Linked DNA regions of Homo sapiens. The protein of the gene in region 2 interacts with the protein of the main gene of each other region in a pairwise test. Each region holds a gene or a part of one and is shown on either strand. Other genes may lie near its edges. The genes, in order: GAD2, HIGD1C and MTERF3.

Evidence for each region.
Region 1: the proteins of HIGD1C (region 2) and GAD2 interact in binary tests that used the Homo sapiens proteins (3 or more experiments, as listed by UniProt).
Region 3: the proteins of HIGD1C (region 2) and MTERF3 interact in a two-hybrid assay, tested with the Homo sapiens proteins (one large-scale study listed by BioGRID and IntAct).

What each region holds. Positions count from the first base shown.
Region 1 is NC_000010.11:26,215,484-26,219,693, reverse strand, and holds the start of GAD2 (glutamate decarboxylase 2), read right to left. Parts: upstream 2,921-4,210; 5' UTR 2,885-2,920; coding exon 2,809-2,884; intron 2,085-2,808; coding exon 2,025-2,084; intron 1,853-2,024; coding exon 1,703-1,852; intron 652-1,702; coding exon 418-651; intron 1-417. UniProt on the Homo sapiens protein: Catalyzes the production of GABA.
Region 2 is NC_000012.12:50,966,032-50,969,680, forward strand, and holds part of HIGD1C (HIG1 domain family member 1C), read left to right. Parts: intron 1-3,649.
Region 3 is NC_000008.11:96,244,477-96,248,125, forward strand, and holds part of MTERF3 (transcription termination factor 3, mitochondrial isoform 1 precursor), read right to left. Parts: intron 1,979-3,649; coding exon 1,831-1,978; intron 1,456-1,830; coding exon 1,384-1,455; intron 1-1,383.

The DNA.
Region 1 (4,210 bases), on a different chromosome or scaffold from region 2:
AAAGAAAATACCAGCACAGCACTGGTATTCGGGCTTTTGTTTGGATCACGCATTTTTCGAGCTTTTATTTCCATATTCTCTTTCTCCACTTTGAGTTCTTTCTGCTGGTCTCTGCTGATGAATATTTGCTTCTATACCAGTGGTATAACCTCCGTGTCCAAATACATGCAACGTAAAATCTGATGATTTACACTTAAATCATGTTTCTGACATTATCAACTTCAGAAGCATGAACAATAGCAGTGGAAGGTGCTTTGGATTAGAATCATTCTAATAATGACTATTTTTTACATGATGAAAATAACTTTGCAATTTTGAAAATATCAGTAACTCCATCAAACAAAACATTTTATAGAAAAAAATAAAATAAAAATTGTAAACGAAAAAAGAGCTTTATTATTTTCGATGAGACAATACCTGTTTTAATTGCATATTTTAGAGTTGTTTGGCAATGCATCAAAATTTCCTCCAAATTTTGTGGTTGGTCTGCCAATTCCCAATTATATTCTTGGAGAAGCTCATTAGGATAATGGAAATCAATCACTTTGGTTGATCTATCGAAACTTTTCACCACATACTGAAGTAAAATGTTCATAACATCTTGCAGAAACGCCAAAGTGGGCCTTTCTCCATCACACGCCGGCAGCAGGTCTAAAGAATGAAATTAAAATGCCACATTTTAATTTTACTTTGAAAATATTCAAGGCAAGATCTTGATGAGGCAATAACATTTCTTTGAATTGAGAGATTTCATGTTAGATAAAGCTTTTGGAAAGGCAGAACATTTTTCTTTAAAAGGGAGACATTTTTCAAAGGTGAAGGGAATGAATGAGATAAATTATGATTTCTTCTCTTCCCCAAATTAATTACTGCATTTCAATTCATAACTTATATTGTTTGCCTTCTTTTTTTGAAGAGCGTGTACCTCCGTTTATCTAGTTCACAGGAGTTCGTCTTAAACGTGTTTCTCAGTAAACCATCTTACATGTTTACATAAATATTTCACGTCAGAAGTGTTTGTCTCGAATGCCTTCGGGCAAACCAAAGTGGAACAGGTGCATTAGGATCTCTGGTCTGATAGGAAGGCCCGCTGTTTCTAAAGTCAGTGTGTGTGTGTGTGTGTGTGTGTGTGTGTGTGTGTGAGAGAGAGAGAGAGAGCGTATGCATGTGTGTCTGCATGTGTGTGTGCGCGCGTACATTTGGGAGACGGTGTGTAAGTGCACGGGGGTAAAACTCGGCGCGCGGGTTTCATGTGAATGGAATCGTTCTCTTGTGCAATTGCAGCTACAAATCACTCTCGTGATCTAAAGACCTAAAAAAAATGCAATTCTGAATTCTCGGGCACGGTATTTGGAAACTGAGTCCCACCCGAGGCCCCAGCGGCCTAGGGAAGCCAGCCGTCATCGATTCAGTGAGCGCACGAGCGCCTGGATCGTCGGCCACCCGCCATCCCAAGGGCCGCGCTGGGGGAAGAGCGCCACGGCCTCAGAGCCCTCTTGGAGCTCCGAGGCCAGGTTCGGGGGCTTGGACCCAGCGGGCAGGTCCCGCATTTCTCGCTTTTATCTGAAGATTCTGGCAGGTCCCGCCTCCGCTGCCACCTCGACGCCCCTGTCCGGCTCTCAGCGCCGGACCCGCACCGGCCGCGGTGGGCGGGGCAGAGAGAGGGGCAGGGGCGCCCCGGGGCTCCCCGCTGAGTCTTTACCTGTTGCATGGAGAAACGCGTAGTTGACATCCACTTTGGAGCAGCTGCAGGGCTTCTGGTCGCAGGCGCAGGCGGCCTTCCGGGCGGCGGCCCGCGGGGGTTGGCTCCCGCCGCTCTCCGCCGGCTTCTCGGCGTCTCCGTAGAGCAGGGCTGGGTAAGGACACCGAACGCGGGCCTCGTCAATCCTCCGCCGGGCCCGGCTCCCTCGCTCCCGCCTACCCGCAGCCAGGAAACCCCGACTCCGCTGACTGGGATGCGGAGGTGAGAAGACTGCTTGGACCCCGCGGGCCGACCTTGGCCGCCCCGGTCCCTGGGCACTCACCGCACAGTTTGTTTCCGATGCCGCCCGTGAACTTCTGAGCCACTTGGCACCAGGCTCGCGCTGCAAGGAAGAATAGGCAGGCAGACAGCGAGGCAGAAAGAGAACAACAGACGGACGTGTGAAATTTCGTTCTATGTGAAAATCAATCAGTCCGGGGTCCTAGGAGGGGCCGCCTTCCTCCTGGGGGCCGCTCAGGACTCGGTGAGGCCGGCAGGTGCAGAAGGCAAGCGGGAGGCTGGCGGCCCGGGCCAGCCCTCATTTCCTTTATCTGTTTCCCGAGGAGAAGCCCACACCGCTGCCCTTCCAGGTGCCAATCGGCTCAGGCAAATTCCTCTCCCTGCCTACCTTGGACGAGTTTTCCTAAACACTGAAGCTATCCATTTTTTCGCAGACTGTCTTTCTAGATAAAGAAATCTCTCACCTTTCCCATTTTTTTTTTCTATCTTCACGGTCACTCCGTCCCACCCCAGGGTCCAGACACCCGGATCTTAGCAGCGCCCCAGGACCACGGAATTCCATGTCCCCGAGACACCGCGGTCTTTGGGGGGCTCTTCCAACCTTCTGTGGAACGGGCCTGAGACTATTTGGGCGTCTTCCCAGGGTACAAGAGGCTGTAGAGGTCTTGAGCTCTTGGGCCGTCAAGGACTTAGCCCAAAAGCAGGGAGAAGCGCCCGAAGAAGTTTCCTGTTGCAGGTGGAAAAACCTCCTTCGTCTTCTCCGTAGTTCCGCAAACCCCAGACCACCGCAAAACTCGCCCGCCGCAGGCCCCCGTTCTCCTTCCTACCTGTGCCGGGATTCTCGGAATCCCCAGAGCCATCTTCCGACCCGAAAGACCAAAAGCCAGAGCCCGGAGATGCCATCGGCTTTGGAGACTGGAGCAGGTCGCCTGCGAGTGCGAGCTGCGGGCGAGCTGCCTCGGGCTTGGCCCTGCGCGCGCGTGCGTGCCCGTGTGGCGGGAGGAGGGCACCGCGCGGGGACCGGCGGGGCCGAGCGGCGAGGGCGGGTGTCACGCAGGAACAGAAAACGTGCGTGTCTGTGCGTGTGTGTATGCGAGCTGGAGACAGGGTTTAGGGACGTGGCAACCCTTTGGAAGCCGGGGAGCTTTAAAAGAGACCGGGACTACCTAAGGGTCCTCGGAGCCCGGACTCAGGAAAGCGCGGAGAGCCCCAGAGCATTTGAGGGAAAGGGAGCCCAGTGGGGATGAATGAGGGGGCGGCGGAGGAAAAAAACACGAGAGAGGGAGGGAGCTGAGTCGTGAGGATGCGAGGCAGACCATGCACGCCAGCTGGAGTCAGAGTGAGGGGGTGGGAGGCGTGCCAGCGCGTCCTCGGGCGAGCCAGAGGCGGGAAGTGCGGGCGGCCGCTGTCCCGGGTGCTGCCACAGCCGCTGCGCGCCAGCGTCAGCGAGGGGCAGACTGGGGAGACCTCGGCGAGGCGGGAAGCGTGGCCCAGAGGAGTTTTCTGTGTGCATCGATTGGGGTTTTGTTTGAGGTCTGGCTCCAGCTGAGGGGAAGGAAGCGGGGTTCCCGCGCCGTTTTCCTCCAAGCAGGTGCTGAGGTCACTGCGACCTCGAGAGCTCGCGCCCCGGGCGGGCATCAGGCGCCGTTCACGAGCCTGGGGAGGGGACGGCGGGGGAAGGGCTCCTACCCGCTGATGGGCTCATTTCAGCGCCTTGGTAGAACCTGACGCCTGCCTGCTGAACCGCGCCGTACCCGGGGGCGCACCGTTCCTGCGTAGCCAAGGGCTAGATCGCGGGACCCACCGTCCAGGCTCTGAGTGACGGCTGGGGAGAATGACTGCTGATTGAGGCAATTAAAATCCACGCTGGAGTCTACTGAGGACCTCGGGCTGGGGAAAAAAAAATAAAACGAATGGAAACTTCTTGGAAGAGAATGAGGCAGAGCGGCCAGAGTCGGCAGGATTGATGGCGGGTGGGGGATGGAATCAGGGCATTTGGTGACCTTGGCCCGCGGAGGCGTGGAAGCGCCCGCTGCTTGCGTGTAAGGGGGATCTGTGTGCGCCTGGGAGGGGAGAACAGGGTTTCCAACTAAGCAATCTCGGCTTTACAAATCCGAGTAGGAAAGAAGGCATCGCCTGCAGGGCCCTCGTTTTAAGGGGCTTCAAACCAATGCCCCCCCTCGCCCCCAGAGAATCTTCGCGGTAGCGGGTGACCCGGAAGCGCGAGAT
Region 2 (3,649 bases):
ATCAGTTAGCCAATGCCAAAGATCTCTGTGGCTTACTTAGACTATTCTGATGACCACTTAGGCTTTGCTGCCCATCACAACAATCATGCTTTCCTTGTCTTTGTCAATCAAATGCTACCACTTGACCCCCACAGCCTCAGGATCCCATCATCCCCATTGAATTTAGGGAGCCCAGCAGTTTGCACTGTCATTTCTGGCATACAGAGAACAGTCACCACAGGACTCTTGTCAGGGCTACCCTGACAAATGTCTTTCTCACAACCTTAGTTTAGGGAGTGGGTAAGCAGGATAAATTTACTCTAACATACCAATCTCCCTAATCCTTTGGATACCTACCTCTGTGGCAGTTTCTGAACCTCAGCACTACTGACATTTTGGGCTGGATTCTTCTTTGTTGTGGAGGATTGTCCCATGCATTGCAAGATGCCTAACAGCATCCCTGGTCTCCACCCAAGAGATGCCAGTAGAACTCCTTCCCACCTCCACACCCTCAGTTGTGACAACCAAAAACATCTCCAGACATTACCATATTTCCCTGGGGAACAAAACTGCCCCTGGTTGAGAACCATTACTCTACCAAGGAAGTTCTGGCATTTCAATTTCATTTAGTGGAGATTACCTTTTGGTCCAAGTTTCAGTCATTCTCAGACAGGATGGAAGGACTGCTTCTATTGGCAAAGGAGTCTCACTAAAATTTAAGTGTTCAAAGACCCATTTCATTTATGTCTGCCACATCTTCCCAATTTTCAGTGTCCCACTCCTTCTAAAGCAATGGTTTAACATAAGTGACTTTGTGAGGTTGGGGATTGAATTTGTATTGTGATGAGCCACTCACAGGATTCGGGAGGCCAAGGTGGGTAGATCATTTGAGGTCAGGAGTTCGAGAACAGCCTGGCCAACATGGTGAAACCCCCATCTCTGCTAAAAATCCAAAAATTAGCCAGGCATGGTGGCATGTGCCTGTAATCCCTGCTACTCGGGAGGCTGAGGTAGAATCACTTGAACCCAGGAGGCAGAGGTTGCAGTAGGCCAAGATCACACCACTGCACTTCAGCTTGGGTGATGGAGCAAGACTCAGTCTCAAAAAAAAAAAAAAGAAAGAGAAATAGGGTCTTGCTCTGTCACTCAGGCTGGAGTGCAGTGGTGCAATCATGGCTCACTGCAGCCTCAAACTCCTGGGCTCAAGATATCCTCCTGCCTCTTCTGGGCTTAAGAGATCCTCCTGCCTGCCTCATTCCCACAGAGCTGGGACTACAGGTATGCATCATCATGTCTGGCTAATTTTAAAATTTTTTCGTAGAGGTGGGATCTCCCTATGTTGCCCAGGCAAGTCTCAAATTCCTGGGCTCAAATGGTCCACTTGCCTCAGCCTCTCAAAGTGCTGGGATTACGGGCATGAGCTACCAGACCTGGCCTTTATTTTTTGTAGAAATGAGGGTCTCACTTCATTGCCCAAGCTGGTCTCGAACTCCTGACCTCAAGCGAACTCCCACCTCAGCTTCCCAAAGTGCTGGGATGACAGGTATAAGCCACCATGCCTGGCCTAATGGGTGATAATTTAAGAAACTATTTTGCTACTAAATGCCATGGACTGTTAGCATCCTCCTTATAACTGAAAACATGGCCATTAATGCCTTTAAATCTAAACGGATCAGAGAACCAATTCCGGATAACCCAGAACCATTTCAGAGAACCTATCATGCTGGTTCTGTTCCTCTGGAAGTACTTCTAATTCCAAACTGTATCAGTCAAGATTCAGACAAGCAAAACTACCAGTAGTGATATATAAAAAGTGATTTAGGCTGGGTGTATTGGGAGTCCAAGGCAGGAGAATCACTTGAGCCCAGGAGTTTGAGACCATTCTGGGCAACATGGCGAATACCCTATCTCTACAAAAAATTAAAAAGTTAGCCAGGCAAGCTGCATGCACCTGTGGTCCCAGCTACTCGGGAGGCTGAGATGAGAGGATGGCTTGAGCCCAGGAGGTCGAGGCTGCATGAGCCTTGCTCACGCCACTGCACTCCAGCCTTGGCCACAGAGCGAGGCATTGTCTCAAATAATAAGAAGAAGAAGGAGGAGGAGGAGGAGGAGGAGGAGAATGAGGAGGAGGAGGAGAAGGGATTTATTACAGAGATATGACCTTAAAACATTTTTGGAGTTGGCTAAACAGTTTATGCGAAGCTGTTGCTTATGTTTCTAATACTGGGGACTGAAGTCAGTAAGGCAGCAGTTGGGAAGGAAAGATAAACTGGAATCTGCAAGGATGAACTAGAACCCAAGAAGACAGATGAGAACTTGTCAGACTTACTGCCTCCCAACTTACCGTAATCTCCACTCCAGTTACACTGATTCTTTTTTTGTGTGTGTGTGGGGGGAGACAGGGTCTTGCTCTGTCATCCGGCTGGCGTGCAGTGGCGTGATCACGGTTCACAGCAACCTCAAACTCCTAGGCTCAAGTGATCCTCCCACCTCAGCTTCCCTAGCAGCTGGGACTACAGGCGTGTGCCACCATGCCCAGCTAATTTTTGTTTGTTTTGAGATGGAGTCTCACTCTGTTGCCCAGGCTGGAGTGCAATCTCAGCTCACTGCAACCTCCACCTCCCAGGTTCAAGTGATTCTCCTCACTTTGCCTCCTGAGTAGCTGGGATTACAGGCACCCGTCACCACACCTGGCTAATTTTTGTATTTTTAGTAGAGATGGGGTTTCGCCATGTTGGTCAGGCTGGTCTCAAACTCCTGACCTCAAGTGATCCACCCGCCTTGGCCTCCCAAAGTGCTGGGATTACAGGCATGAGCCACCACGCCTGACCCTAATTTTTTTATTTTTTTGTAGAAATGGGTCTCGCTATTTTGACTAGGCTGGTCTCTAACTCCTGGCCTCAAGTGATCCTCCTCCCTTGGCCTTCCAACGTGGTGGGATTACAGGCATGAGCCCCCACCACGCACCGCATTTATATTGTTTATAAATAAATGCACAGTTTAGCTGGGCACGGTGGCTCACGCCTATAATCCTAGCACTTTGGGAGGCAGAGGCGGGTGGATCACCTGAGGTCAGGAGTTCGAGACCAGCCTGGCCTACATGGTGAAACCCCATCTCTACTAAAAATACAAAATTAGCTGGGTGTGGTGGCGCACACCTATAGTCCCAGCTACTAGGGGGGCTGAGACAGGAGAATTGCTTGAATCTGGGAGGCGGAGGCTGCAGTGAGCCAAGATCACCCCACTGCACTCCAGCCTGGGCAAGACAGAGAGACCCCATCTCAAAAAAATAAAATAAGTAAATAAATAAATCCAGATTTTGAGAGGCATGCTCAACATATTTACTTAGATAAATCTGGAAAGTTTGGAGACCACCTACCTGTGCCATGTAGAAATCTCATACGTAAGGCCAGGCACAGTGGCTCATGCCTGTAATCCCAGCACTTTAGGAGGCCAAGGCAGGCAGACCACCTGAGGTCAGGAGTTCAAGACCGGCCTGGCCAACATGGCGAAACGCTGTCTGTACTAAAAATACAAAAATTAGCTGGGCATGGTGGTGGTGCCTGTAATCCCAGCTACTTGGGAGGCTGAGGCAGGAGAATCGCTTGAACCTGGGAAGCGGAGGTTGCAGTGAGCTGAGATCACGCCATTGTACCACTCCAGCCTGGGT
Region 3 (3,649 bases), on a different chromosome or scaffold from region 2:
TGCAACCTCCGTTTCTTGGATTCAAGTGATTCTCCTGCCTCAGCCTTCTAAGTAGCTGGGATTACAGGTGCCCACCACCATGCCTGGCTAATTTTTGTATTTTTAGTAGAGATGAGGTTTCACCATGTTGGCCAGGCTGGTCTCAAACTCCTGACCTCAAGTGATCTGCCCACCTCGGCCTCCCATGCCAGGGTTACAGGCATGAGCCACCACGCCTGACCATGATTCTTTTAAACTTAAAATAACATTTTAAAATTTGGAGACAGCTATGCCAGTGCCTTCAAGGAATTACAGCTTCCGGCTCCTGGGGTCACCAGAATTTCAAACCCCTCTGCTGAGAAAGAGCTACACCATGATGGTCATGAAGCTCACCAAAGGGGCAACCATAATTACAAGAGGGAATGAGTGACATGGGAGCGCTGCAGGTCAGAGGCATGGGCCCAACACCAAACAGATCCTTCAGCAGCAGGATCTTCAAAATGCTTTTTGAGCTTTTGCTCCCAAGTACACCCACATATGTGTTGTCTGAAAAACGACATGTCAACATTCCAAGCAGAGATGAGGAACTAAACAACCAAACACAGGCCGGGTCCTCTACTTGCTTTCATAGTGTCCTGTGTGCCCCCACCAAGTAACTGCCCCCATCACTCTGGATTTGATCCCCCACTAGATTGTAAGCTCCTTGGGAGGAGAAGCTGTCTCCTCAGCATGGCGCTTGGGCAGGAGCTCAATAAAAAGATTTCTTCAATGACTGAACTGTTCACCTCAGAAAACAGCCCTTATATAATATTTCAAATACTACTACAGCTTTATATACTAACTAGTCAGCTGCTCTTGGCTTTATCTTATTCTCTTGGAGGAAGGACAGTAAAGAGTGTCTGGTACATTCTGTGACAGAATGAGAGCTGGCAATTGGGACAGGTGCAAAGGAGAACAATGTGCTGGCTGCTACTCTTTTCACAGAAGTCTTTTGGATCCAGCCTCCAAAACTCCCTGAGACATACACAGACTGTCATGCTGGCCAACAGGAGTACTTTCGTAGACTGGTAACACTGCCCAGGTAACAAAGACGTCAGACGCCCACACTGGGCAACAGAAGCAGTTTCAGGGTACCACTTATATCCCTATCTAATGCTTTAGGATTGTGGGTATCAATGTCTGCAAGGTGATTTACTCAGGTTAATACCTGCTCAACGTGAAAATATTAACTGAAACAAACTGCTTGCTAGACATTTGTTAAAGATAATTTCCTATTTCTCTTTTTAGAAATAACTTATTTTAAAGTCTAGTTTTCTTTTACATGACAATAGCAAAATCTGTTCTCTTCAGAGGATTTTAACACTTAAAGAAACTGATTTCTCAAAAAGCCTAAAGTTGTCCTACCTTCATATTTTCTTTCACGGGTTCCAGACTTCCAGTTAGCAGCCTTGGGAGACGAACTACCAGATCTCTAGTCTGTGGTTGCAAACAAAACAATCTAGTATTACTATACGTGCATCTTTAACTAGTTTGGAAAATTAAGGCATTATTAAGATACAAAGTTAAAACTTAAAATATGACCCAATCAGAAAAATGATAGGAACCCCAGGAATAGATAAGATTAATACTGTTTGGAAAAAAAGAAAACAAAAACTGAAGGAACCAGTTTGATTAAGTATTATAAAATGATGGAGCTCTATGTTTAAACTAGCAGGATAATTCATTTTTGTACAAAAAATACCAGGAATTTATATGATTCACATGGGCCAGGCATCTGCTGGGAACATGAGATCTATCAGCTATTAAAATGTACCTGACATGGAAATAAACAAATTCTCTCCTTTTCTTTACCTTCTTCACACTAAGTTCAAGTTCTTTCTGAAAAAATCCCAATCTGTTATCCAGTCTTTCCACTGAAAAGTTCAGCAAAAATGGTGCTTTTCTGACCATCTGTGCAACATCTGCTTTACTGAAATTTTTTGAATGCAGATAAGCCACCCTAGAGAAACATAAATACATACGCATGTGATAAACACTTACATTCTTTTTTTTTGAGATGGAGTCTCATGCTACTTCCCAAAGTAACAGCTGTTTTTAAAAAGGCTCCCACACCCTAAATTACTAACTAAATAAAAGCATTCTGTAACAATGGCAAAAACACGTTTAAAACAAAACAAGCATTCACCCAACTCTAGATGGTTTCCACTTATACTTAAAAACAGAAAATAATTCTGAAATCCACTAATAGGTATTAGTTGCGGTTTTTGCCATTACTTTCAATAGCAAAAACATGATTACTTTTGCACCAACCTTTAGATTCTCTTTTCAATTAATCTGGTTTATTACTTGGTAAGAAAGAATGAAATAGCTTCTGCTTAAGATTTTTTTTTTTTTGATAAGAACAGAAAAACACAAATTAAGAAAATAACACAAATTAAGAAAATTAAGGAAATAATGGTTATAACTGAGAGAGGCATTTTTTAGGTTAGTATATTTACTGAGCCCCTCCCCTCCCCTCTTCTATTCTTTTCTTTTCAGGAAGAGTCCCGCTCTGTTGCCCAGGCTGGAGTGCAGTGGCATGATCTGGGCTCAATGCAACCTCCGCCTCCCAGGTTCAAGTGACTCTCCTGCCTCAGCCTCCCAAGTAGCTGGGATTACAGGCACACACCACTAGACCCAGCTAATTTTTGTATTTTTAGTAGAGACGGGGTTTCACCATGTTGACCAGGCTAGTCTCGAACTCCTGACTTCAAGTGATCCGCCCACCTCAGCCTCCCAAAGTGCTGGGATTACACTTGAGTGACCATGCCTGGCCTGAGCATGTATTTTTATAAATGATTTTTACTACAGTCTTTCAATATGTATTTTGTCAACTGAGAGATTTTCCTGCTAAGTTTCTGAAGATCAAACTATGTAAGTTAGTAAAATATAGAAAGTTTGACTATAAAATAACATTTTTAAAAAATCTAAAACATAGTAAAAGATGGTTTTACTAAATGTCTAAAATATATCAGGATATTATTTTGTTTAATTCTAACCAGAAAAACAAAAAAACTTGTGAGCCAAGTGAATTTTCCATGAGGAAACATGGATTCAGGGAAGTTAAATAACTTGTCTGAGATCATCACCTAATTACTGACAAAACTAAGATGTGAACTCAGGCATGCCTACATCTAAAGCCTATGGTATTTTTATACTATATACCAAAACTTATATTACTTTATAATCACATGACTATTACTCCTTTAAAAATAGTTAAAATATTTATACGTTTAAGTATATAAAAATTTTAAATGCATGGCAAAACAAAACAAAACAAAAACACCCCACTATAAATGAAGTCAAAAGACAAGTGACAATCTAGGAAAAATATCTGCAACATGTCTCAGAGACAGAACTAATTTTCTTCATATATAAAAGAACGTTTACCGAAAAAGAAAAAAGCCTGATTAAAAAATAGCAAAGGATATATTACAGAAAAGGAAATGTAAACAGAAATTCAACATATGAAAAGATGCTCCAAACAACATTCCATGTTTCAACATCTGATGCTCCAACCAACAAATAAAGTACTCTTTTTATCTATACAATCAACTGAAAGCAAAGTGTGATAGCACTGTATCTGTAAGGATAACAGGGAAGCTGGCACTTCTGTACACTGTTGGGGAGA